Linked DNA regions of Homo sapiens. The protein of the gene in region 2 purifies or fractionates together with the protein of the main gene of each other region. This does not show direct contact. Each region holds a gene or a part of one and is shown on either strand. Other genes may lie near its edges.

Evidence for each region.
Region 1: the proteins of ZBTB21 (region 2) and FAM110B purify together in Homo sapiens (affinity purification with mass spectrometry, with the first as the bait; one large-scale study listed by BioGRID). This does not show direct contact.
Region 3: the proteins of ZBTB21 (region 2) and MTFR1L purify together in Homo sapiens (affinity purification with mass spectrometry, with the first as the bait; one large-scale study listed by BioGRID). This does not show direct contact.
Region 4: the proteins of ZBTB21 (region 2) and CREB3L2 purify together in Homo sapiens (co-immunoprecipitation; one large-scale study listed by IntAct). This does not show direct contact.
Region 5: the proteins of ZBTB21 (region 2) and TBC1D1 purify together in Homo sapiens (affinity purification with mass spectrometry, with the first as the bait; one large-scale study listed by BioGRID). This does not show direct contact.
Region 6: the proteins of ZBTB21 (region 2) and REEP3 purify together in Homo sapiens (affinity purification with mass spectrometry, with the first as the bait; one large-scale study listed by BioGRID). This does not show direct contact.
Region 7: the proteins of ZBTB21 (region 2) and NADK purify together in Homo sapiens (affinity purification with mass spectrometry, with the first as the bait; one large-scale study listed by BioGRID). This does not show direct contact.

What each region holds. Positions count from the first base shown.
Region 1 is NC_000008.11:58,146,904-58,149,284, forward strand, and holds the end of FAM110B (protein FAM110B), read left to right. Parts: coding exon 1-440; 3' UTR 441-1,881; downstream 1,882-2,381. UniProt on the Homo sapiens protein: May be involved in tumor progression.
Region 2 is NC_000021.9:41,986,361-41,989,860, reverse strand, and holds the end of ZBTB21 (zinc finger and BTB domain-containing protein 21), read left to right. Parts: 3' UTR 1-3,030; downstream 3,031-3,500. UniProt on the Homo sapiens protein: Acts as a transcription repressor.
Region 3 is NC_000001.11:25,826,454-25,829,953, forward strand, and holds part of MTFR1L (mitochondrial fission regulator 1-like), read left to right. Parts: intron 1-161; coding exon 162-373; intron 374-3,055; coding exon 3,056-3,377; intron 3,378-3,500. UniProt on the Homo sapiens protein: Mitochondrial protein required for adaptation of miochondrial dynamics to metabolic changes. Regulates mitochondrial morphology at steady state and mediates AMPK-dependent stress-induced mitochondrial fragmentation via the control of OPA1 levels.
Region 4 is NC_000007.14:137,874,479-137,877,282, reverse strand, and holds the end of CREB3L2 (cyclic AMP-responsive element-binding protein 3-like protein 2), read left to right. Parts: 3' UTR 1-2,304; downstream 2,305-2,804. UniProt on the Homo sapiens protein: Transcription factor involved in unfolded protein response (UPR).
Region 5 is NC_000004.12:38,132,084-38,135,583, reverse strand, and holds part of TBC1D1 (TBC1 domain family member 1), read right to left. Parts: intron 2,501-3,500; coding exon 2,327-2,500; intron 1-2,326. UniProt on the Homo sapiens protein: May act as a GTPase-activating protein for Rab family protein(s). May play a role in the cell cycle and differentiation of various tissues.
Region 6 is NC_000010.11:63,520,143-63,524,200, forward strand, and holds the start of REEP3 (receptor expression-enhancing protein 3), read left to right. Parts: upstream 1-1,258; 5' UTR 1,259-1,403; coding exon 1,404-1,435; intron 1,436-1,595; exon of another isoform or gene 1,596-1,748; intron 1,749-4,058. UniProt on the Homo sapiens protein: Microtubule-binding protein required to ensure proper cell division and nuclear envelope reassembly by sequestering the endoplasmic reticulum away from chromosomes during mitosis.
Region 7 is NC_000001.11:1,754,471-1,757,970, reverse strand, and holds part of NADK (NAD kinase), read left to right. Parts: intron 1-660; coding exon 661-790; coding exon of another isoform or gene 791-864; intron 865-1,088; exon of another isoform or gene 1,089-1,192; intron 1,193-1,313; coding exon of another isoform or gene 1,314-1,362; coding exon 1,363-1,468; intron 1,469-1,627; coding exon 1,628-1,713; intron 1,714-2,494; coding exon 2,495-2,597; intron 2,598-3,272; coding exon 3,273-3,427; intron 3,428-3,500.

The DNA.
Region 1 (2,381 bases), on a different chromosome or scaffold from region 2:
CTCCCAAGCCCAAAATCGCAGCCATCGCCTCCATGAAGTCCCCCGAGGCCGACCCTGTGGAACCAGCTTGTGGAGTCAGCCGAAGACCCTCCCTCCAGCGGTCTAAGTCAGACTTGAGTGACAGATATTTCCGAGTGGACGCGGACGTGGAGAGGTTCTTCAACTACTGTGGACTGGACCCGGAAGAGCTGGAAAACCTGGGAATGGAAAACTTTGCAAGGGCTAATTCTGACATAATATCCCTCAACTTCCGCAGCGCAAGCATGATCAGCTCAGACTGTGAACAGTCTCAGGACAGTAACAGTGACCTTAGAAATGATGACAGTGCCAATGACCGCGTGCCGTATGGCATTTCTGCCATCGAAAGAAATGCTAGAATCATCAAGTGGTTATATAGCATCAAACAAGCTAGAGAGTCACAGAAGGTCTCCCATGTGTAAGACAGTGCGTGGAAAGGAGGGAGCGTGGGTCTCTGTGCTTACGCAGTTGTGAAGGTTGTGAGGTCTCCTTGAAGTGTTGTGAGCTTCTCCACTCTTTGTGTTGCTTGTTGTGCAATGTTTTCAAGTTGCATGCTTGTCAACATGGGGACTGACCTGGCTTCCACGTCACCATCGCTACAGAGCCTGGCTGAACACGCGTCATCTGCCAAAAGTTTCAGGCCAGAATCTAATTAGGGCTTTGCTCGTAAGCAAAACTGTTTACATGAAAATGGTATACAACTTCTTCGATATTTATGTGGTTCTTGTGTTTTTATATCCCGCGCTATTGTGTCTTAATTAAAAGTTTTATCAACTGGCTTTTAAGTTGAGAGCAGAATCTTTTTGAAATAAAAAGCCACTTTGCCTACATGTGAGACTATTCCAGTGGGACAGTAAATGGGATCTGCTACCAAACAGATAATGACTGACCGAACATAGAACCAGGCTGGGTTTTCTGTGGAATAAAGTGGTGAGCCTGACGTTAATCGTTTACATGTTGAAATTCTCTTGCCACTTAGTGAAGCAGTCATTGGGGTAACAATGCTACGTTTTGTGTCCGATTCAGTGTGTAAACGTTGGTGGTTCTATGTAATACTGACCCCAAGGAAAGACGATCAGATACAAAGAAAGATGGTTAAATCTAGGAGGTTGGGTGTTTGGGGGTTTTGTTGATGTTGTTCTGATTGGGATAATTCAGAAATTCCTAATATTATCTTTCGACAGAATGACCACCCTAAAACAAATACTGAATGCCTTTAAAAAAAAAAAAAGTTGTGGTTTTTTGTTTTTTTTTTTTTTTTTTTTGGTCGAGAACTACTAATTTCATGCTATTTCTTTCTCTCTCCCTTTGTTGTTATTTGATTTGGGGGAAGGGAGTGAGGCTTGTGCAGATTTGAGCTATCTGAAGACATGAACAGAAGTCAAATACCAGCCATATCAGTAGAGCCTTCCATTCAAAAGTGAACACACTTGGTAGCTGAACCATATCTGAGCAGCGTGATTCTGTTGTCTTGCATATGTTATTCTCTCAGGCTGTGGATCTTTGTTACAGCTCTAGGAAACTGTAGAAATACAATGCTATGTAGCTTTTCCACCCCATGGTCTCTAGTGCTGCCTATCAACTTGTCCCCTTTTTTCCCAATAACCTGTCTTCCAGGTGGTACAGTTAGCTGTCACTCAGCTGACACCATGATGTGGCAGCAGAGAGGGAAACCTACAAGTGGTTTGCCTCATTGCCTTTGCCACATCTGAAGTTCTCAGCAGCACTACCTTAGACTTCATGAGCTAATAGGAAACTTTTTATGGTGTAAATGCTGTAAGACTTTGTACATACTTCAGTTGTTATGAAATCTTTAAAGAAAAAAAGAAAAAGTTACGCTAATAAATTGCTGTGGTGCAGGCACTAATGGTGGTGGTTTCTCTTTGTCCTGTATTGCACAAAAGTTTAACTTTGGACTATGAAACAGAAGCAGATTTTTGATAGGCTTGAAGAAACATTATTTCATTAAGTTATTTTCACCATATTCCAATTACTCTAAACACCAGTGTTCTTAATTGTGGCTCTAGCAATGTGCTTTTGCTAAACTGATTACATCAAGGTTCCTAAAATGTGCTGCAGCATCTCAGTTCACACTTGTGTTATTTTTGTCTTTTCTTAAACATCAGGATTTTTTACATCTTCCACACAACTCTTCAGTTATAAATATTTTGAGTTCTCACCTTGGAGGCACACCTTTGAAATGTATGGCTTCGTTTTTATTTGTACCAGCCCAACATCCCTACCATGGCATGTGTTCACACACTCGCTCCTCCACTCCTTCCTTCATTCCTCTTCAAAATGTCACTGTTTGAGTGACTCATTTCAGGTATCATGGTAGGCACGGGACTGCCATAGTCAACAAC
Region 2 (3,500 bases):
AGAGCAGAGGAGAAACACCTCACTGCAGTTTCAACATGCTTTCCAAGAACAATATATACGACATATACATTTTCCTGCCTCTCTCTTGTGACAATTTCTGTTAGAATTTGTTGGGGGTCTGATGGTTAAAATCATGGGCAAGGCCATTCTCTACATCATTGCTTAATATTTCAAAAATAGGTATTAGAGCACTATCAGTGGTCCAAAATTAGTTTTAGCTACTTATTTTGCTCCATGGGTTTTGGGCTTTTCAAAGAATACTATGTATAATTTGTAATTGAAAGCCTTTCAGTAGGATATCCAAAGTTCAATGTGTTTCAAAAGGGAAAACTTTTACTTGTGGGGGTGGGAGTTAGATGTATTAAAAAAACGAAACTACAAAATCCTTTTAAGAAAGTAATACCAATTTAGACTCTAGTTTGTGTTACGAGGTATTCTTTCAAATTTTTTTTAAAAGCCAACTACTGTCATTAAGAAATAATTTTAGATTTGTGCTCTAGCAGAAAATAACTCTGTACCCATCAATCTTATTGCCAACATTCCATACCAGTGGTAGGAAAGATATTCTCATTTTTTTTATTGAACCAGACATTTTTATAAAATACTGATTGACTTTGTACATTATGGATATTATATATGAAATTTTGCCTTGTATTCTTTCACTTGAAAAAACTCCAAAATTCCACAATATTTTAGTAGTTAACTTCCTATTCTTTCTTAAATTTGATGGAGAAGGGAAAATAAATTGCAGTTATTGATTCTTGCCATCTTTGTTTTCTTAAAGAAATCTATGCATTTTAAGGATAAAACTAAAGCATATGGGTTTACATGAAACATCAGGATGGATTATTGTACATTGAATTCATTCCGCGTATAATGTGGTATTTCTTACTCTGTCCATCTTGGTAGCTGTCACTTCAAAAGAAGACAGTTTCCCTGAGTAATCATCACCTACATGGCCATTAGAGTATCTATCGGTGATAATTCCATGATACAGAGTATCTTGGCATTATAAATTCAGTATCCCAGGACCTAAACCTTTATGCTACATTTTCGAAGATTTTTTAAAAATAATATTGTTAATCAGTAAAAAAAAAAAATATTTTTGATCTAAACATAGGTTCTGCATATCTGTTAGATTTTAAAAATGACTGGTGTTTTGTCTTCACATTTTTGTCTAAGCAAGGAATATAAGATTTCAAATAAAATTTTGAACCAAAAACATTTATAATGCCGTTCTGGTTTTTCTATTACTTTTTATACTGTACTTTAAAAGCATTAGGCTGAAAGAGTTTATTTTGGTGGTCAAAAAAAATATGCTTCCACTCATGTAACTATTTTAAATGTTAAGAAGTAAAATAATGAAAGATATGTTAATTACTTTATTCAGTAAAGTTTTTTAAGAATGTTTATCTCAGCCAGTAGGCAAATACTTGGTGTAAAACAAGTTGGTCTTAAATTGTTGCAACTCATTAGCTAGTGAAGATATTCATGTAAATATATTTTAGGATTGTAATTAATTTTGAAAATGTAGAAAGCTCTTTATTCCATGTAAGTATGCAGGATGCCTGCTTTTTTATGCAGTTGTGGAAAGAATGTAAAATGTTTTAATATATTCTTTGTTAATCTGAGAACTTGATACTGAATCGTTTATGTGGGAGAAGGAAGGAGTAACATAAAACATGTTTTTATCACTCAAAGTAAGCAATGGAGGTAACAAATATTGTGCATTTTAACAGTAATATTTGAAGATTTGTAGAATATTCACCTTTAAAACTAGTTAGTATGCATTTATAATTTTACCAGAATATACAACTAACAATTCAACAGTGATGTTCTTTGCATTTGTGGGGAGATGTGTGATGTTCTTGGTTTTCTGGTTTGGAATGGAACGTTTATAGCCTTGCCTGTAAAAATGTGCCCCAGCACTTAATGAGTGACCGTTTGAATCCATATGTAGTCCCATTGGTGCTAATGAGAGTAGCTGCTGTGAAACAGGAATAAAATGTGTCTGTTCACGGAGGTGCGGTGTGGATGCACCTACAAGGCCAACTCTCTGATCAGGGTGAGGGAGAGATGGAAGAATTAACAGATCTAAAGTTGGCCTTTGTTGTCTCAAATTGGGTTTGTACACACATGCATGCATGTGTGTATACAACTGTAATCTGGAACTTCAGGAAGTAAAATTATTTGAAGTTTCTTAGTAAAAAGTAATTAGGTATAATTCCAAATAGATTTCTGTATAAATTGTATCTAACTGGATTACAAGTCAGTTTGACAATTTACGATGTCTCAGTGATGTTTCTGCAATAATTGTGAAATGCATTATTGATTTAAATAATGCTGACACGTACTCTTTAAAAGTGTTCTTTAACACTGACTACTAAACTTTAAGTTTTAAAAAATAGGTTTTCATTTATGGCTTTTTGTGGTTTTAGCACTTTAAGAAGTTTAATTTTTTGTAATTTTTAATATGCTCTTTCAGTGTATCTCAGCGGGTACTCCAGCTTGTGGCATTCCCATGTGACTGGGGAGAAGACAAAATTGGTGTTTAGATTCTGGAGGAGAAAAAATGAGTTACAATGTCAGGTGTTTTTAAAAATTCCTTTTAGAGACAGTCTTTTGGGAACCAAAGTATTTTACTGTAAATCTTTAAAATAACAGAATTCAGTGCTCTTTCATTTGTTAATGCTGTCCAGATTTTTCACACAGTTATACTCAGTTAATACTAGTTTTCAGAACATTAGTCCAAGGCTATTTCAAGTTTTCCATTGAATATATGCTTATGGTTAAAAGAAAAACGAATGGTTTTATAATTCTGTGTATTTTGTCATATGCCTTAGCAGAGTAAGTCATTTTTCCATTTTACTTAGGAATAAGCTTTTTCGAACTGAAAATTCATGGTAAAATAGGATTTCTATCTAATGTTAATCCATTGCTTATTTGTATTCAATTCCATTGTCTACAGTTTGCTTAAATGTTGACTAAGAATGATTGGAGTCAATAAATTTGTACTGTATTTTGCTTCGAGTCAGTCTCAATGGTATGCCCTGTACTTTGATAGTAACCGGGTGTAGCATTTACATTTGTGAAAGTAAAGTTAAAATCTTCCTATTTGGGTAATGTGAATAGCTGTGAGAGATTTAATTTTCCCCCGTTCCAGGTTGCTTATAGAATTAAGGTTGTATTAAAGCTTTAGTTATTTGGGCATCGCAAATACGATGATTAAAACCAGATAGGCAACCATCTTTGCTCATCTGCCATTTCCTTTACTATTCGAACTGGTAGTTTTTAAGTTGATGGGGCAGGGGGGTAAATGCAGAAAAATAACATTTTTAAGTACCCTGCATTGATATTTCTGCATAGCAGTTGATAAACCAGTTTTATTTGATAATCTAAAGAATTTAATGTCATAGCTTTTTTTTTTCATTCTAATGAGGTTTTTCTGTAAAACCGGGGTATATCATTTTTAAAAATTTTATTAGCTCTCCCTGTAACGT
Region 3 (3,500 bases), on a different chromosome or scaffold from region 2:
CCCAGAAGAGGTGGCAGGCAGCAAGGAGAGAGGAATGAGAACTGTGGGCTCAGAGAGGAGCAGAACCTTACTATACTACTCTCACAGAAGTGGGGGAAGGAACCTTAGGAGCACAGTGGCCTGCTGTCTCTAACTGATCTACTTGGTTTTCCCTGGTCCAGGAGTGATACGCGCCCCCTGAGGCACACCTGGAAACCCAGCCCTCTGATTGTCATGCAGCGCAATGCCTCTGTTCCCAACCTGCGTGGGTCCGAGGAGAGGCTTCTGGCCCTGAAGAAGCCAGCTCTGCCAGCCCTAAGCCGCACTACTGAGCTGCAGGACGAGCTGAGCCACTTGCGCAGCCAGATTGCAAAGATAGTGGCAGCTGATGCAGGTAGGAGCCCCTGTGCCAGGGCCAGAACGTAACAGGCTGTTCCTTTCCCCTGGCTCTTGGGCAGGATAGGGGTAAAGAAAGTGGTAATCCTTGGTTTGCAGGTACTTAGGTTCCGGGCCCTGGGGTTGTCCTGAAGCCTGGCTAGCCAGTAGTGCCTCTTAGATGGTTTCTACCAGCCATTTTGGGCTGAATGGTTTGGTTAAGAACAAAATATTAACCTGTGACCCCAGGCAGAGTCCCTCCCTTAGCCCCCAAACTGATACCCTCTTCTAAGTGTCTTTAAGATCACATCTTACATAAGCCCACAGTAGCTTTTTTTTTTTCTCCTCTGAGTGAGTCTTGCTCTGTCGCCCAGGCTGGAAGTGCAGTGGCACGATCTTAGTTCACTGCACTCTGCCTCCCAGGTGCAAGCGATTCTCCTGCCTCAGCCTCCTGAGTAGCTGGGACTACAGGGGTGTGCCACCAGGCCTGGCTAATTTTTATATTTTTAGTAGAGACAGAGTTCCACCATGTTGGCCAGGCTGGTCTTGTATTCCTGACCTCAGATGACCCACCCACCTCAGCCTCTCAAAGTGCTGGGATTATAGGTGTGAGCCACCGAGCCCAGCCAGTTTTCCTTTTTTTGGAGACAGGGTCCTGGTTCTTGCTCTGTTGCCCAGGCTGGAGTGCAGTGGCGCAATCTTGGCTCACTGCAACCTCTGCCTCCCAGGCTCAAGCGATTCTCGTGCCTCAGCCTCCTGAGTAGCTGGAATTACGGGTGTGCACCACCACACCTGGCTAATTTTTTTATTTTTAGTAGAGACGGGGTTTTGCCACATTAATCAGGCTGGTCTCAAACTCCTGGCCTCAAGCAATCCACCCAGCTCGGCCTTCCAAAGTGCTAAGATTATAGGCATGAGCCACTGTGCCCGCGGTTGAAACAAGAGTCTCATTCTGTCACCCAGGTTGGAGTGCGGTGGCACGATCTTGGCTCACTGCAACCTCCACCTCCTGGGTTCAAGCAGTTCTCGTGCCTCTGCCTCCCGAGTAGCTGGGATTATAGGCGCATGCCACCATGCCCAGCTAATTTTTTGTATTTTTAGTAGAGATAGGGTTTCGCCATTGCCCAGGCTGGTCTCAAACTCCTGAGCTCAAGCAATCCACTTGCCTCAGCCTCCCAAAATGCTAGGATTACAACCATGAGCCACCGCGCCCTGCTTTCCTTTTCAATACAAGAAGTAAACATTCCCCCCACCACCACTGAGACTTACCCTTTTTAAGCACCTATCTTCCCTTGCCTTGTTGTTTCTACCAGGAATCACAAGTGGCTTTACCACTTCAGTTCTTATACTGCTAGTGACATTGTCCCCATGCCCCACCCTTCAAAGTGGGGAGTTTCATGACATTATGTTATGTTTTCTTATCTCAAATTGGTGGACTTTTTTGGTGGAAGGAGAATTTCATAAAGTTGGAGATCTTGGCCTTAAAATACAGTGGTCGGGCACTGTGGCTTACGCCTGTAATCCCAACACTTTGGAAGGCTGAGGTGGGTGGATCACCTGAGGTCAGGAGTTCGAGACCAGCCTGGCCAACATGGTGAAACCCTGTCTCTATAAAAAATACAAAAATTAGCTGGGCATCGCAGCATGTGCCTTGAACCTGGAAGGTGGAGGTGGAGGCAGAGGTGGAGGTTGCAATGAGCTGAAGTTGCACCACTGCACTCCAGCATGGGCGACAGAGTGAGACTCCGTCTCAAAAAAAGAAAAAAAAAAAACAGTGGTCTATTATGCAAACAAGCCCTGTAACCCACCCCTCCAGCTTTCTGTCTACAGTTAAGGCAGAACCACTGGAAATGGATGGGAAGCCTGCCTTAACCAGAGGCATGGACAGCCAACAGGTGGATCGCTCCCAAGATGCTCAGGGCTTATCTTCATATTCCTCCCATCCTCATTTTTTCACTCTGCATTGACTCAGAGTCATAGCTCTGAAATTTATCATTTGGTAGGACACATGAAAATCATGGTGTTCTTTGAAATCTTCATGTATTTAATTTCTTCACATGGAAGTTTTATGAAGAATTGTACTGAAACTTTGTTATTTCTTGGCTACTTTTTTGTCATCCAAGAGACAAGCAGAAGTAACATCTTTTTTAGAAACATAGTTTTTAGTGTATTTAGTGTTTTTAAAGTATTTTTAGAAATGTAAAAACTGAGGAAATTCTCTCCACTGAAATTTGGGGAGGTTGGGAGGTCTGTTACCATTCTGGTTTTGCTCAGAACATGTCTTCTAGTTCACAGATAGCAAGATTTCAAAGGAGCATAGTCAAAAGCACTAGTCTAGTTAGAGAAAAGGACAAATTCAGGCCTTAGCTCTTATCTCTGCTGCTTTGGCCTATGACAGGGCTGTCACTCCACAGCCTATTGTGGAATGGGAGCTTTTAAATGCCAAGGCCATTATGGGGCTGGGTTTTCCTGCCTTCCTGGAACACTGGAAAAGCCCAGTGCTTCTACAGCTTTCTGAGCCCCCGAGTGAGAAGCATAGTGGAATGACCCTCCACTGGCTACAGATACCATCCTGGCTCTCCCAGATTGTCATGGTGTCAGCCCAGGAAATGAATGTTCAGTAGGCAGGGCTGTGGGGAGAAGATATTGCTACTGTGTTCTAGCCCCAATGTCCACCCATGCCTATTGTTTTCTCTTTCAGCTTCGGCTTCATTAACGCCAGATTTCTTATCTCCAGGAAGTTCAAATGTCTCTTCTCCCTTACCTTGTTTTGGATCCTCATTCCACTCTACAACTTCCTTTGTCATTAGTGACATCACCGAGGAGACAGAGGTGGAGGTCCCTGAGCTTCCATCAGTCCCCCTGCTTTGTTCTGCCAGCCCTGAATGTTGCAAACCAGAACACAAAGCTGCCTGCAGTTCGTCTGAAGAGGATGACTGCGTCTCTTTGTCCAAGGCCAGCAGCTTTGCAGACATGATGGGTATCCTGAAGGACTTTCACCGAATGAAACAGAGTCAAGATCTGTAAGTATCTGATGAGGAGCTCTGGTATCTATTTACTCAGAGTTGCCCATGGCCAATTATGTAATGCAACATACTTACATAGTAAGTTCTTAGTAGTACCATATGTTATGTCATTCATAAAGC
Region 4 (2,804 bases), on a different chromosome or scaffold from region 2:
TATAAATGATTTTGATTTGGAGGCCTAATTTGTAGATTGTGAAAGCAGCTTTTAGTTTAACTTATTCACAGACCCCTTATAATTACCATGTTTTTTTTTTTCTTCCTAAATCTCTTGGTTCAGCTTGTGAATCTTACGTGCCCGTAAAGTTGGGATGTTGAATTGGCTCTTCTTTGTTCTGGCAGTGAGTCAAGTGTCCAGCATTTTTTCATAAGTGTTTTTTAAAATTGTTCTCCAGCATTTTATGGCTCCTCCCTCCCATGTCCTCAGACCCAGCAAAAGCGTAGAGGCAGAATTAGAGGCCTCTCCAGGCCAGCTCCTCTGCCCACATGTCATACAAGGTGTGAATTTGAGCACAGTCCAGAAATGGAGACATCCCACCCCCAGTTGAATAATGGCCCATTCATGCCAACCTTGCCAACACGGAGAGGGCAGAGATGCACTAGAAGACCTTCATCCTCCCCTTCCTCTGCCCCAAGTCACTACAGTTGGTTCTATTGAAGCCAGTCTTTAAGAAACCTGGGTTAAAGACACCAGCACTTCTGCTTGCTGGGCTGGCTGGACCTGTGAAGCCATGGGCAGGTAGTGCCCTCTTGAGAGTCATTTTATTTGGCCACCTTCAGGTGAGACTATCCATAGACACATGCTAGGATAGGCCCCGCTGGGAGGGCAGTTACAGGAGAGAGTAGGTGGTGGTGACGTGAGGGCTGTGAAGGATCCAGAGACAAGACTTAGATGTTTCGTTCATTCACTCACTCATTCAGTTACTCCTAAGACTTTTCAGTTTCATAAGGAAGAGTGTTGCCTGAGGCCCTAGGGAATATTGGGGAATAGAAGGGATTGAGGAAACATTAATAATAGTTATTCAAAAGACCCAAATGCTTATACTTCTCTCTCCCTTCTTCTCTCTCTGACACACACACACACACACACACACACACACACACACACGTGCACATTCCTCCCTTACATGCTCATTTGTGCCTTAAATGTGCCTTATAGGTAAATCCAGGATGACTGAGGAATCCCTCGTCACTGGGAGATTTTGTATATATTCTTTTATTATTAGATTGAGTTGGGTGTGGGGAAAAATTTTTTTCTGAAGGCTCAAAAGTGGTTTCCTAAAAGTGAGCCACTATCAGATTTGCACATCAGGAGAAAAGAAATAGGGTTACGTCCATTAGGAAAATCCCAGTTTGCAGGAGTGCAATCACATCAAAAAAACAACCAGCCAGGATTAAAGGTATTATAAATCCTCATAGCGGAACATTTCTCAGGGCAAAGGAACCTGGCTCATTTGAAGATTAATGTTCCATGCCTTTGTGGTCAAAGGGTCAGCACTTAACACAGGAAAAAACTAGGTGTTGTTTTGTTTTGTTATTTTGGACAACATAAAATTCAGGAATGTTTTATTTAGCCTTGGTTTCTAGAAGGAAGGGAAATAATATTTCTTGAGCATTTACTAGGGTGTTGCGTGCTGTGCTAAGTAAATTTTAAGTCTTTCAGTTTTATAGATACGGAAAACAAGGGTGACTCTTTACCACAGGATGAATAAAGAACTAAGTAATATGGGAAATGCAGCAATTTCTGGACTAGCTGAGCCGATTCCTTCCTGTGAGCACACTGTAAGCTTTCAAGTTCTCTGGGCAGGAATTACAGCACCTGTCCCCTGCAATGGCCCTGCTGTGTGATGCTCATCGCTTCCCTTCGTGCTGGAGCAGTCCCCCAGGTGTCCATCTCCTATCTTTTTGTTCCAATCTTCTGTGAGTTCCAGCTAGCAGGCTTTACATCTGGGGAAAGGAAAACCAGGGGTTTTAGCTCTGTTCTCTGCTCCCATCCTTCGCTCACCAGCTGAGTGAGAACATGAACTTTTTGCACCATGTACCCATGGCTTACACTACTTAGAAAATCACCTTTTCAGATAAAACAGTTTATGAGTTCATAGAGAACACCAGCACTCTTTGACAAAACTGTGAGTGACCCTTTTTAAACAATGCTGAGCAGGCCCTGAGCTATAATCAACGGTGAGCTTTAATGTCTATGCTGACAGTTAGGTTTTGCTCTCTTTTGTAACAGGTTACGTAGACCAGCAGTGTTTAAATCTAAATACGTTGTGAGTCTGTTATCTGTCCTATCGCGTTTTTTAAATGACTTTTTATTCTTTATCATAGCTAAGTAAATACCAAAAAAAAAAAAAAGCTTTGTAGGACACTTGTACTTAGTTTGGGAAAAAAAAATAAATTGAAATTGTTATGCTTTTGTATTTCCATTTCTTGCAAATAAATATTTTTTCTTAAATAGTAAGATGTTGCCCAGTCTTTATAATCTTGGTACTAATTTGAAAAGCATGTTGTTTTTTTATGAACATGGGTTTGTGTATGTGTGCCGAACCGTTCTTTCCTGGATATCTACTTGGCCTGAAAGAAGAGCCTCAAACCAGCAATTGGTATGTTATATAGGACTGAATCCAAGCCTTAGTTGGAGGAATATTGAGAATGTAATTGTTTTTTCAGGCAGCCACGGGAAGAAAAACAGTATCCTCTAGAGACTTATGCAGCATGACTGTTATTTTTATTGTCTCCTCTAACTATTCCCTAACTAGATTTCAACTGTCTGTGGATTTGATTTTGCTTTCCCCATCTCTGGTTGCTTGAGAAAGATCCTTTGGACTTGAGCCAGAAAGGAATGATCCTTCTTCCTACGAACAGTTGCAGAGGATGTCTAACAGATTCATGCTCCAGAAATTCTGATGAAATGGTTGATAAAGGTCAGTGCACTCAAGCAGAGTAATCTTCGTTCCATTA
Region 5 (3,500 bases), on a different chromosome or scaffold from region 2:
CTCTGCATTCCGAGGTGCAACCTGCAGCTTAGTTAGTAGTGAATTAATTTGCATGGTCATTTGCTATTCTGCATTAATGTCAGGTCTCCTCAATAACACCGATGCTTTTATAGAAGCAAGCATGTCTTCTCTTTCACACATGGTCCTGTCTCCCACAGCACCTGGCTCAGTGTGGGCGTCAATGACTTGTACGGATTATGACAAATCCATGTGCATTATTATTTGGTTCCATCTGGCACGTCTATGCAATCGTCTGATGTACTGCTGAACAAAAGAGGTGGTAGAATTTGCTCTCCAGCGTCTAGACAACGTTCACATGTATTTAACAGGGAATGAAATGGGATTTTGATATTTCTAACAATTTTATGGACAGAATAAAGGTAGGAAATGGGTTGATTTTGGTATTTTGGCCCCCCCAGAAAAGCTATATGAAAATTCAGTACTGTATTGAACACCCTTCCTTGTCAGTGTCTGAAAAGTGTACACGGAGGAGGCATGATTCTTACATATGAGAGGCATATTTTCGTAGGGGATCATGGAAAAACTATATCCAAACACCACAAATCGATACAATACAATCCTAGATCCAACTCTTTGAGAGCTGCAGTGTCTTACTCAACTTGGTGGCCCCCAGCACTCAGCACTGCAGGGACTCAGGAACTACTGGTGGGTTGGCATAGACCACAGTTCTGAATGATCCTTCCAGAAGTGTAGGACTACTTGGTCAAGAGAACGACCATTCCAGGGAGAACATCTGTAATCACCAATTACTGTCTGATGCCTTTATTGAGGAATGTAGGTAGCTAAGCAGTTTTTCACAGCTCCCTGTCTTCACAAAAACAATAGCACAGGAGCAGCATGAAATTACTTTCTATGCTCTGTCACCAAAAAACTACAAGGTCATTTACCCAATAAAACAAACCTTTTATTTGAGAACTGCCTATCTTAACAAGCTAAACACTTCAATGCAAATGTGAGCTTTATTAGAAGTTTCCACCATGTTATATTTCAGGGACCTATCATTGGCTTGGAAGCCATTTAAAATGACCACCTACACTGTGTACCCCTACAGGCCAGACAGGCTCTTCACCCTCTGGAGACTTCCCTTGAGTGATGGCTGAGACTTCCAGGGTAAATTGTATACAGGCATATTTTCAGTTAGGACATCTCAGGGGAAAAAAAGAAGTTAAATTTCAGAATGTGAGTGGTTATTAGGGCTGGGCAGGAATAGCATTCGGTCTTGGTTCCTCTCTTTCACATATCTGATAGGGTATGCTGGGATGGAATGCCCGCTGGGAGGAATGCATTTCAGATAGCTTGACTCACTAGGCTGGCCTTTCTCACCTTGCTGCCAAGCTTGTGTCTGCAAAGCTCATCTTTCTATGAAGAAAAATCAGAGGCTTAGATCAGAATGGAACTTATTCTCAGGACAGCCCAGGAACACCATAAAAATTTCGGCAAAAATATGTATTTTTATCCACAGCCACTCAAAAACAACTTTTAAAAACACCCTCAAAACAACTCCTTAACAGGGACAGCACTGCTACACACTTGTGACATTAAAAAAAGTAGAAAAAAGTAGAACATATGGTTGCTTCATGCCATCAGATTGACAAAAGAGCTGCACTCCGCAGTTAGGTGTTCTTTTGGGCAGTGTGCCTGGGTGATGTGGGGGTGGGGGTGATGCTGGACCTGGCCAGCTCTGGTCTCCGTGCTGCACCTCAGTGCTTGCTCTGCACACCCTCCTGCGTGCACAGTCTCAACTGGTCTTTCTTCTGTATGTCCTCACCTGAGTATATCCGTGTTGAAATGGAAGTTTCTAGAGGGGAGAACTGAGACCTTCATTAATCAAATCTTTGTATATGCACCAAGGACTCACAAAGAATTATCATCTCTTCTGGTTTGTTATATTTATTTCTGTGTTACTTTCCTCCTTTACCATCCCTCTGTGGACCTAGCTGGTTTTGCTCATAGAAGTTAAAAGCTCTTAGATTCTCTTTGAGTAATGACAACGGCTGGCATTCAGCTAACAGGCCACGGCATCCTGAATCCAAGTTCATCTCTGGGCCTGTCCCCTAAAAGAGTTAAGTGCAGAAACAGCCTCTCAGAAAGCTCTGGGACTGCCTGACCTTAGCAAAGGACAATCTGTCTGCTCCATAATAAAAAGGACCCATTCTCCCGGGATACCTTTGATCCCAACTATAAACAGATCAGGGTGGGAAAGGTCCTCTGGTCATGGGAAAGCCCAGCCTGCTGTTGCCTTTGGTGAGTTAATGAACTACCATATATTTGTGATTCAGGAAGCTGCTTTATAAATATGCTCTACCTGCAACTGTTCAAGGAGGTCAAGGTTCTGTTTGCGTAAGCTGCTGTTGGTTTTCTCTAATTTATCCATTCTTTGGTTGTCACTGAGAGGAGAGGAATCGATAAGTTCTTCTTGAAGGACGTGGTACTCAACTTCATAAGCTTGTAACTGTTTAGCGATGTCCATTTCAAATACCTGTTATAGAAAGAAAAGTCATCACGTACTAAAACTGAGAAAAACCCCACAAGTACAGGCAGGCGTCTGCAATCACGACAATGCGCACCTGTGAAGCGTCTCCTCTACGCTTAGCTCTACACTTGGTACTAGAAGTAATAAATAAGAAAAACTACGCACTGAGAAGGTAATAATTTTACTTGGGACAAAAGGATATAAGAAACATCTAGAAATAATTCCAAGGTAACATTAAGTACAGGTTTTTGATACTCACCTTCCAAAAGCCAAAAAAAAAAAAAAAACCTCTCATTTTTAAAGACATAAAAATTTATTTTTAGTTCTTATTTCACTTCTTTTCTCTGAAAATTCTGTTAGGTTAGATACATCAACTATGGGTTAAAAGGAGAAAAGAAACAAAAGAATCATAGCCTGTTTGCAGAGTCACCAAGTCAAAGTTTAATTATAGTTCAGTTGGGTTTTCAGAGTTACAAGAACAGCTAAGTAATGGGACTGTTTACTAAAAAACTCTCCTTTGCACACAAATATGCAGAAATGAGCCAAAACCCACATGTCACCCACACAGATGAGTGAATACGAAACGATGCCTGAGTTGTCTTCTTTCCCACAATAGTAATGGTGACGAAAACACCACACGTGTGAAAAACAACTCCTAAGTGCCTAAGTGACTCAAGCCGTCCGTGTCTGTACTTTCTCTTGGTAAGGAAGGCAGGGCGGAAAGCAGAATCAGAAGACAGCTGCTGCTGCTGCTGCCCAAGGCATTTCCTTTCTTTCCAGTTGTTTCTATGAGAGAACCCCAGGGGCTGGGGCCTCTCAGCACAGCAGTGAAGCCCTAACGTTTATCTGATGGATCTGAGAATGCAGTCAAGCTGGGACCATCTTAAAAGAAAAAAAAAAAAAACCCTGCTAGATCAGAACACACATTCAGAAAGTGAAGTCAGGCTTTAAAAGGGCAGAAACTGCCTCTCTATTGCATTGCCTTAAGCAACTCCAATATTGTTAA
Region 6 (4,058 bases), on a different chromosome or scaffold from region 2:
GAGAACTGAAAATAATTTAGGATAATCTGTTGTGTCCTTTGATTGTCTTCCATGCAAGTCAGAGTATTTCCTAAACATATTATTTAGCAGTGCCTCATATCACCCTTGAAAGGCAAGAGACAGACTACAGTATTATTACCCCCTTTTTATCACAGGGAAACTGAGGAACAAGAAGACAAAATTACAGTATGGTCACAAAAGCCATCATATTTTCTAGGACTTTAATTAAAGGCTCCAAGCCTACATTTCATCTTTTATTCTTCGCACCATCTGAATACTAGAATTATCTTTTACTATCGTCTTAACTGGAAAAAATAAAAATATCTAAACTTTAACATCATTTTCTCAATTTGGTACTGTCACAAAAAAAAAAAAAAAACAGTTTTAAAAGTCTGCCCTTGAAATGATATTTGCAAGAACAGCAAGGTGTAAGCAGTAACCCAACCTCCAAAAAATACAGTTGTAAATCTTACAGCTGTAATATAGTTGTAAATCTTAAGACAGGTCAGGAATCCTAGACCCAGCCTTTACTTTGAACATCTGGCAGGCCTCAGGGAAATAATGGAGATTCGTGTCTGTAAACAGTCTTTGCAGATGCTCTGATGAAAAGGTGCCCTAAGAGGCCCAGAACAGTGGTATCACTGCACCCACTACTGCAAACATGAAATCCTCCTCTGTCCCTCCCTGCATTGCACCACGAGACTCGTGGCACACACGGAGGCCTGTGCAAGAACCTCTCGACGATTCCTTTAAAATGTGGTAATATAAGGACGCCTTTGGTGCTGGGCCTCCGTAAACACTGAGGATACCGGATGTGGCCAGGCACACCTCAAAGTCTTGGCTCTCCAAAACCAGGGCCTGGTCGAGAGTTTTATTGGACACCGAGTTCCTGCGAATATCTCACTTTTCACACAGGCACTGCCAATCCCTACCCTCCAGTACCCTTCCTCAGCCTCCTGCCCCACTCTCGCCGCGAGTGTGGGCGTCCCAAAGAGCTAAGGAGGGTAAGGTTGGTTAGAGCGCAGGGGCCAAGGCCGCGGCAGCGAGGCCGTCCAGCGCGGGCTAGGATCCCGCCAGCCCAGCCCTGGAGCCCGGCCGCCTGGCCCCAGCCCTGGCCCGGGCCAACGCGCCGCCGCCACCGCCTATCAGCGGAGCGCAGGGGCGGGGTGCTGTCCGGACTAGGCTGCCGGGCCGGCGGGCGGGGGCGGGCGGGGACGGGCGGGGGACCGACCTCTGCGCAGCCCAGGCCGCCGCGCGCACACACCGGGCCCGGCTCCTGAGGGCGCCAGCGCGGCCCCGGGGAGCGCGAGGAGCCGGCGAAGCGCGCGGCCTGCCGTTGGCGGCCTGGTCCGCAGCGCCCTGCGCCCACCCGCCCCGGACGTGGGGCCCAAGCCCCCGTGAAGATGGTGTCCTGGATGATCTCCAGAGCCGTGGTGTAAGTGCCTCTCACTGCGCCCTGCAGCCGGCGCGAGGCCCAGGGGAGCTGTGGGAAGGGGAAGGAGCCGAGAGGAAAGGGAAGGCCTGGGCCTGGGCGGGGACGGGGTAGCCCGGCCTCGGGCCTGCCGAGGGTCTGGGGGAGCCCTCGGCTTCCTCACCTTGGTCCACGTCGCTGCGGAGCTCCCTGCGACGGCCGAGGGCCTAGCTGCGGCGACTGCGGCTGCGACGGCGGCGGCGGCTGTGGCGCTGCTCGGCTGCGTGCGGTGCGGCGCGGCGCCCCTGCTCCGGCGGCGCTGGGTGGGCAGGCGCTCAGGGCAGGCGGCGCGCGCTCCCCGCTCCTGCTCCCCGCGCAGCGCGGCACCGCCCTGCGGGCCCGGGAGCGGCGCGCCTCGCAGCTGCTCCCTGCGCAGGCTCCGCAGACGCCGAGCGCGGGAGGCTCCGCGATCCTCCCGAGGATGCGACGGCAGTGCCGAGCCTTTGTATCCCGCGGCTGATGCGTTGCGGTGTCTCTCTTGGCGGCTGATTGCCATTCGGTCACGTGTGGTAGGAGGAGAGATTTGTCTAAAAACCGGAGACCGCTCCCAGCCCAGGATCCCTGGGAAGGGTCCTAGTTTTCCCAAGATTTGCAGCTTACCGAGAAAGGTGACACCGGCTGCTCGCCCAGATCCCCGAATTCGGCCCTGTCTCGGCGGAAATATTTGCTAAGTGATTGAAAGGCTGCAGGTGCCTGTTGCCTTTGTTCAAATTATGGGTTCATTTCATTGTTCTCCTACCAACAAGTGCTACAGGTCTGTAAGAAAAAGAAATTCCTTGAGTTGGTGGTGTTAATCGTGTAAATGTATTTGAATACAGTTTAAACTGATTTTCTCTCATCTCCATTTTACCCCTCTCCCCGATTAAAAAAAAAGTCACCAAGTAAACAATGACGTAGTTACAGCTAGGGCCTATGAATTCATTATTCACCTCTGTAGTAGTGTTATCTCAGAAGGTTTCATAAAGGTATATGAAAAAATGTTTATGTGAGGGGGCAGGCTTCTCTGATAAGCTTTAGAATTTAGGAAAAATAACATTACCAGACTTTTTGTTAAAAGGAGCTAGATTTTCTGAGTTTGGGGTTTATTTTGTTTGGAAGTGAATTACTAGCCCTATTTAATCAGATTTGCAGCACAGCATTCAAAATTTTTCATTTGATTAAATCGCAAAGTTTCTAGTTTTAAAGCCTCAGAGCTTCCTGTGTTCCCCTGTACGAAACTAAAAATCAAGATATAAACAAAAGGATACCACAGATGCCTTCAGATTGTTTTTCAGCCTTTTCCTGGCCTCTCTTTTGAGTCTGTCATTTATCTAATTCAGGCATACCTTTCTTGACCTAGTAGATGTCTATCAACTGTTGTGTCCACACCTAGAAAATCAAGTGCCCTATTAAGAAGCTGTACTTTACAAAAAAAAAAAAAAAAGCCTCTGGATTTCTTTGACCAGTTCTTCAGCTGACAGAAAATTGTGAAGCACTTTTAGACTTTTGTTTTTCATAATTGCCAATGAATATGAATGTCTGTTCTAGGTGCTACCTATAACACAAAGGTCAGTAACACGTAGTTGATCATGGGAATTGACAGTTTGGGTGCACAGATATCTGCAGTACAGGTCCAAATGTCAACTCTTGTAAAAGTTACACCCACTCTAATACCCAGTGTTGGACAAGGAAGGGATATCTGGTTGGAGAATCAGAAAAGGCAAGGGAGATTACGTTTCAGATGGGCCTTAAAGAATAGGCCCAGTAGAGTGGCTCACACCTGTAATCCTAGCACTTTGGGAGGCCAAGGAGGGAAGATTGTTTGATCACAAGAGTTAGAGACCAGCCTGGGCAACATAGCGAGACCTTGTCTCCACAAAAAAAGAAAAATTTAATTAGCTAGTCACAGTAGCTCACACCTGTAATCCCAGCTACTCAGGGACTGAGGTAGGAGGATCGCTCAAATTCAGGAGGTCAAGGCTGCAGTGAGCCGTGATCGTGCCACTGCACTCCAGCCTGGGCCACAGAGTGAGACTGTGCCTCAGAAAAAAAACAAAAAAGAATGGACAGAATCTAGGCAGCCAAAGATGAAAAAGGAAAGGATTCCAGATATAGGGACCGGCGTGAGCCAAAGCCCAGAGGAGGAAAAGCCCAGATTAGTTACAGTGGGCGTGAGGGACTCGGGTGGGGAAAAAGCAAGCTGGAAAGGTAGCCTGGGGCCTGTTTTCAAGAAAGAAGGGGTAAATGTTATAAGGCAGCAACAGCTTTGCTTTGGAAGATTCTCTGCCCTTCTGTGAAATGATTGGCAATGGAGACCTGGAAGACAAGGAGACTCCTTAGGAGGCTCCCTAACTGGAGAGAGGGGATTAAAGCCTCTCTCCAGTTAAAGTACTTGAGCTACAGAATGTAAGGTTTGAGGCTAACGACAGGGAGCAATAATGTGAGGAAGAAAATGTCATGAAAAGAAATGTATTTCTCAAGTGTCAGGAACTGTTATTTTGTGAGCCGTGAACACATTAGCACATTAGAAAGCACACTTGTAGAGAATATAAACATCATTCTATTTTTCCTCTTTACTCAGTTTCTCTCTCTAAACATGAAAGAGCAA
Region 7 (3,500 bases), on a different chromosome or scaffold from region 2:
AACACCGGGCACAGTGGTCGGGGTCAGAGCCAGCAAAGCGCGGGTGGCTGTGTCAGGGCTGCCACGGACTTTTAAACCTGTGATTTTTACTGTGAGAGTGAGTGAGGTTAAAGTCCGTTCATGCAGGGAGGTAGTGAGCTGTGTGCAGGGGGGGAAGCGGGTCCTTGAGGGGTCCTGGGCTCCCGTGGGGCCAGAAACTGTGTGCAGAGGATCCTAGGGACAGAGTCACCATGTCAACTGGTTTGGGTTTTCGTGGGGGCCTGAGGAGGGCATCAAGCAAAGAGTGGCCCAGCCATGGGCTTTCGTGGTCATTTCTGCCCCACCAGCGTCACTGAGGAGCCAGGCAGGCAAGTGGCCGGGGGCTGGGAAGGGCTGTGGTGCGTGCACTTGGGTCAGCGTGGTGCCCGGGTGGGGGTTGTGGGCCTGAGCCTGCGTGTGATGGGCCAAGCAGGTGAGAGGTGGTCACTCCGGACCCTACTGACCCCTGACCCTGTCTCTGTGGCGCGACCCTAGGCCCTGTGAGCCCGTGGCCACCGAGCACGTTTCCCTGGGAGGTGAAAACACCTTTTTAAAGATTTTTTTTTTTATTTTCTAAGTCATACACCTTTTCCGCAAGAGGGAGATCGCAGCTGGTGTGAACTCTTTTCTCCTCCCCTAAAGGCACATTCAGGACCCCGCGAGCCAGCGGCTGACGTGGAACAAGTCCCCAAAGAGCGTCCTTGTCATCAAGAAGATGAGAGATGCCAGCCTACTGCAGCCGTTCAAGGAGCTCTGCACGCACCTCATGGAGGCACGCGGGGCAGGGGGGAAGGGGGCCTGGGGTGCACATGGAGTTGGGGGGGCCTCCATCCACATCACCGCCCCGTGAGACCATGGGAACCACCTCAAGTGCTGGGCAACGGCTGCTTGTCTGGAACTGGGGACTGAGTGGGGATCTGCCGGGTGTCTGGGTTTGTGTGTGCCGCCATGGCAAGCACCAGACTGGGTGACCAACAATGAGCTGGTGGGCTCGTGGCCCTGGAGGCCGGGAAGTCCGAGATCAAGGGGCCACATCTGACGTGGGCCTTCCTGCTGTGTCTTCTCTTCAGAAGAGCAGGCGTGGGGGTTGCGGCGCCCAGGAAAGCCACTCCTGAAATAACAGCCTTAGTCAATTCCTGAGAGGGAGCCCCCTCCGCCCAGTCATCTCTTAAAGGTCCTGCTTCCTCCTGGCGCGTTGGTGATGAAGTTTCAGCGTGAGCGTGGGGGGGCGGGCATGCAGGCCACGATGCCAGGTCTCTGACCACAGCGCCCGTGAGTCGGGAACCTCCCTGCAGGAGGGTGGGGTCTGCAGGTGGAATGAGCAGGTTGGCACTTTGCTTCCAGGAGAACATGATCGTGTATGTGGAAAAGAAAGTGCTAGAAGACCCTGCCATCGCCAGCGATGAAAGCTTTGGGGCAGTGAAGAAGAAATTCTGTACCTTTCGAGAAGGTGGGCTGTCAGCAGCTCTGTCCTTGGTTTCTCCAGCACAGTTCCCCGCCCCATTGGAAGCTTCTGGCACTGTTGCCCTTGTCATTGGTGTCTGCGCACTGCGCCACAGAGGGGCCACTGTGTGACAGCCTCTTCTTGGTTTTGCTTTGTGTTTCCTAGATTATGATGACATTTCCAATCAGATAGACTTCATCATCTGCCTGGGGGGAGACGGGACGCTGCTGTACGCTTCCTCGCTTTTCCAGGTGAAGCGCTGACATTTCCAGACCCACACCAGGTTCTAGTCTAGGTGCTGCGTAACGAGGGGCTCACAAGCATGGCTTCCATTGCTTTTCACCCCTTTATACGAGAGCAGTCACCTAGAGCGGCCAGCACTGAGGCCCATGGTGGCAGCCCGGTGGGGTGCGACGGTGGGGCCAGGGGCAGTGTGGACACAGTGCTACGGCTGGGGGTGGCCAGCGCCCGCCTGGGACAGCAGGGAGTGGCGCAGGGTGGTGGGTCCTGGGAAACGACCTCGCCTACTGGCCCATCCCCTCTGGGCCTCCCTTGAGCTCCTCTTCCTGGTTTCTCAGCAGCACAGCTCTCCCCTGGGGCTGTAGGGCCACGCTGTGTGGGGGACCCTGGCTCTGCCCTTGGCCCACTGCATGTTGGTGACACCGGAAATGCCCGCAGCCCGCCCTGCTTTTCTCCCCATCTCCCCATTAGCACCTGTGGGGCGCGAGGCTCCGACCCCAAGGCTGCCTCCCACCCGCCCTCGCCAGCTCCCCCAGCCCTCCGTGCCCAGGGGGCCGCTCAGCCCTGCCACCTTTGTTCCTCACCAGCTCCCCACACCAACCTTGGCCCTGGTGGCCCGGCCCACCCTGGCCTGCGACGTCCCCCTCCGCTTGTCCACATGGCCAGTCCCTCCTGCAGAGGGTCGGGGTGCTGTCCCCACAGAGCTGGGTCCCTCCTGAGGTGCTGCTGGAAAGCTGGGTGGTGCGGGGGTGCACGGCGTGGGCACTGAGTGACCTCTCCGTCGGCTCACAGGGCAGCGTCCCTCCGGTCATGGCCTTCCACCTGGGCTCCCTGGGCTTCCTGACCCCATTCAGCTTTGAGAACTTTCAGTCCCAAGTTACTCAGGTGATAGAGGGTGAGTTGGAATGTTCTGGAGCCCACAGGAGCTCTGATCATGGCGCTGCTGTCTCGCTTGCTTGCGGGGGGTTTATTTTCATTTAATGATGCATGGAGCAACATTTAAAGGTTTCAAGATTCAGGGATTTCTAAATCTTGAGTGGTTCAAACCTTTTACTGACACTGAGAAGTTTCAGCAGATCACAGGTTGAAGCTGCCATGTGTGTTGGGCAGAAGTGAGCTGATTCTCACTCTCAGAAGGCACAGAAGTGTCGGCCGGGCGCGGTGGCTCACGCCTGTCATCCCAGCACTGTGGGAGGTCGAGGCGGGCGGATCACGAGGTCAAGAGATGAGACCATCCTGGCCAACACGGTGAAACCCCGTCTCTACTAAAAATACAAAAATTAGCTGGGCGTGGTGGTGCGCACCCGTAGTTCCAGCTACTTGGGAGGCTGAGGCAGGAGAATCACTTGAACCTGGGAGGCAGAGGTTGCAGTGAGCCAAGATCACACCACTGCATTCCAGCCTGGGTGACAGAGTGAGACTCCATCTCAAAATAAAAAGAAAAAGGCACAGAAGTGTGTCAACTTGGGAGAAGAAAGAGCCCTCTGACTCCCACTGGCCTCCCTGGGGTGGGGCCCCTGACCCCACTGACTTCCCTGATGCATGCCCTCTGACTCCTGCTGGACCTCAGGGAACGCAGCTGTTGTTCTCCGGAGTCGGCTGAAGGTCAGGGTGGTGAAGGAGCTCCGGGGGAAGAAGACGGCCGTGCACAATGGGCTGGGTGAGAACGGCTCGCAGGCTGCAGGCCTGGACATGGATGTCGGGAAGCAGGCCATGCAGTACCAGGTGAGTGGAGGCGCCTCGGCCTCGGTGAGGGGCCCAGGGTGGGGCGACTTCGGTCCCAGGGATGAGGACCTTC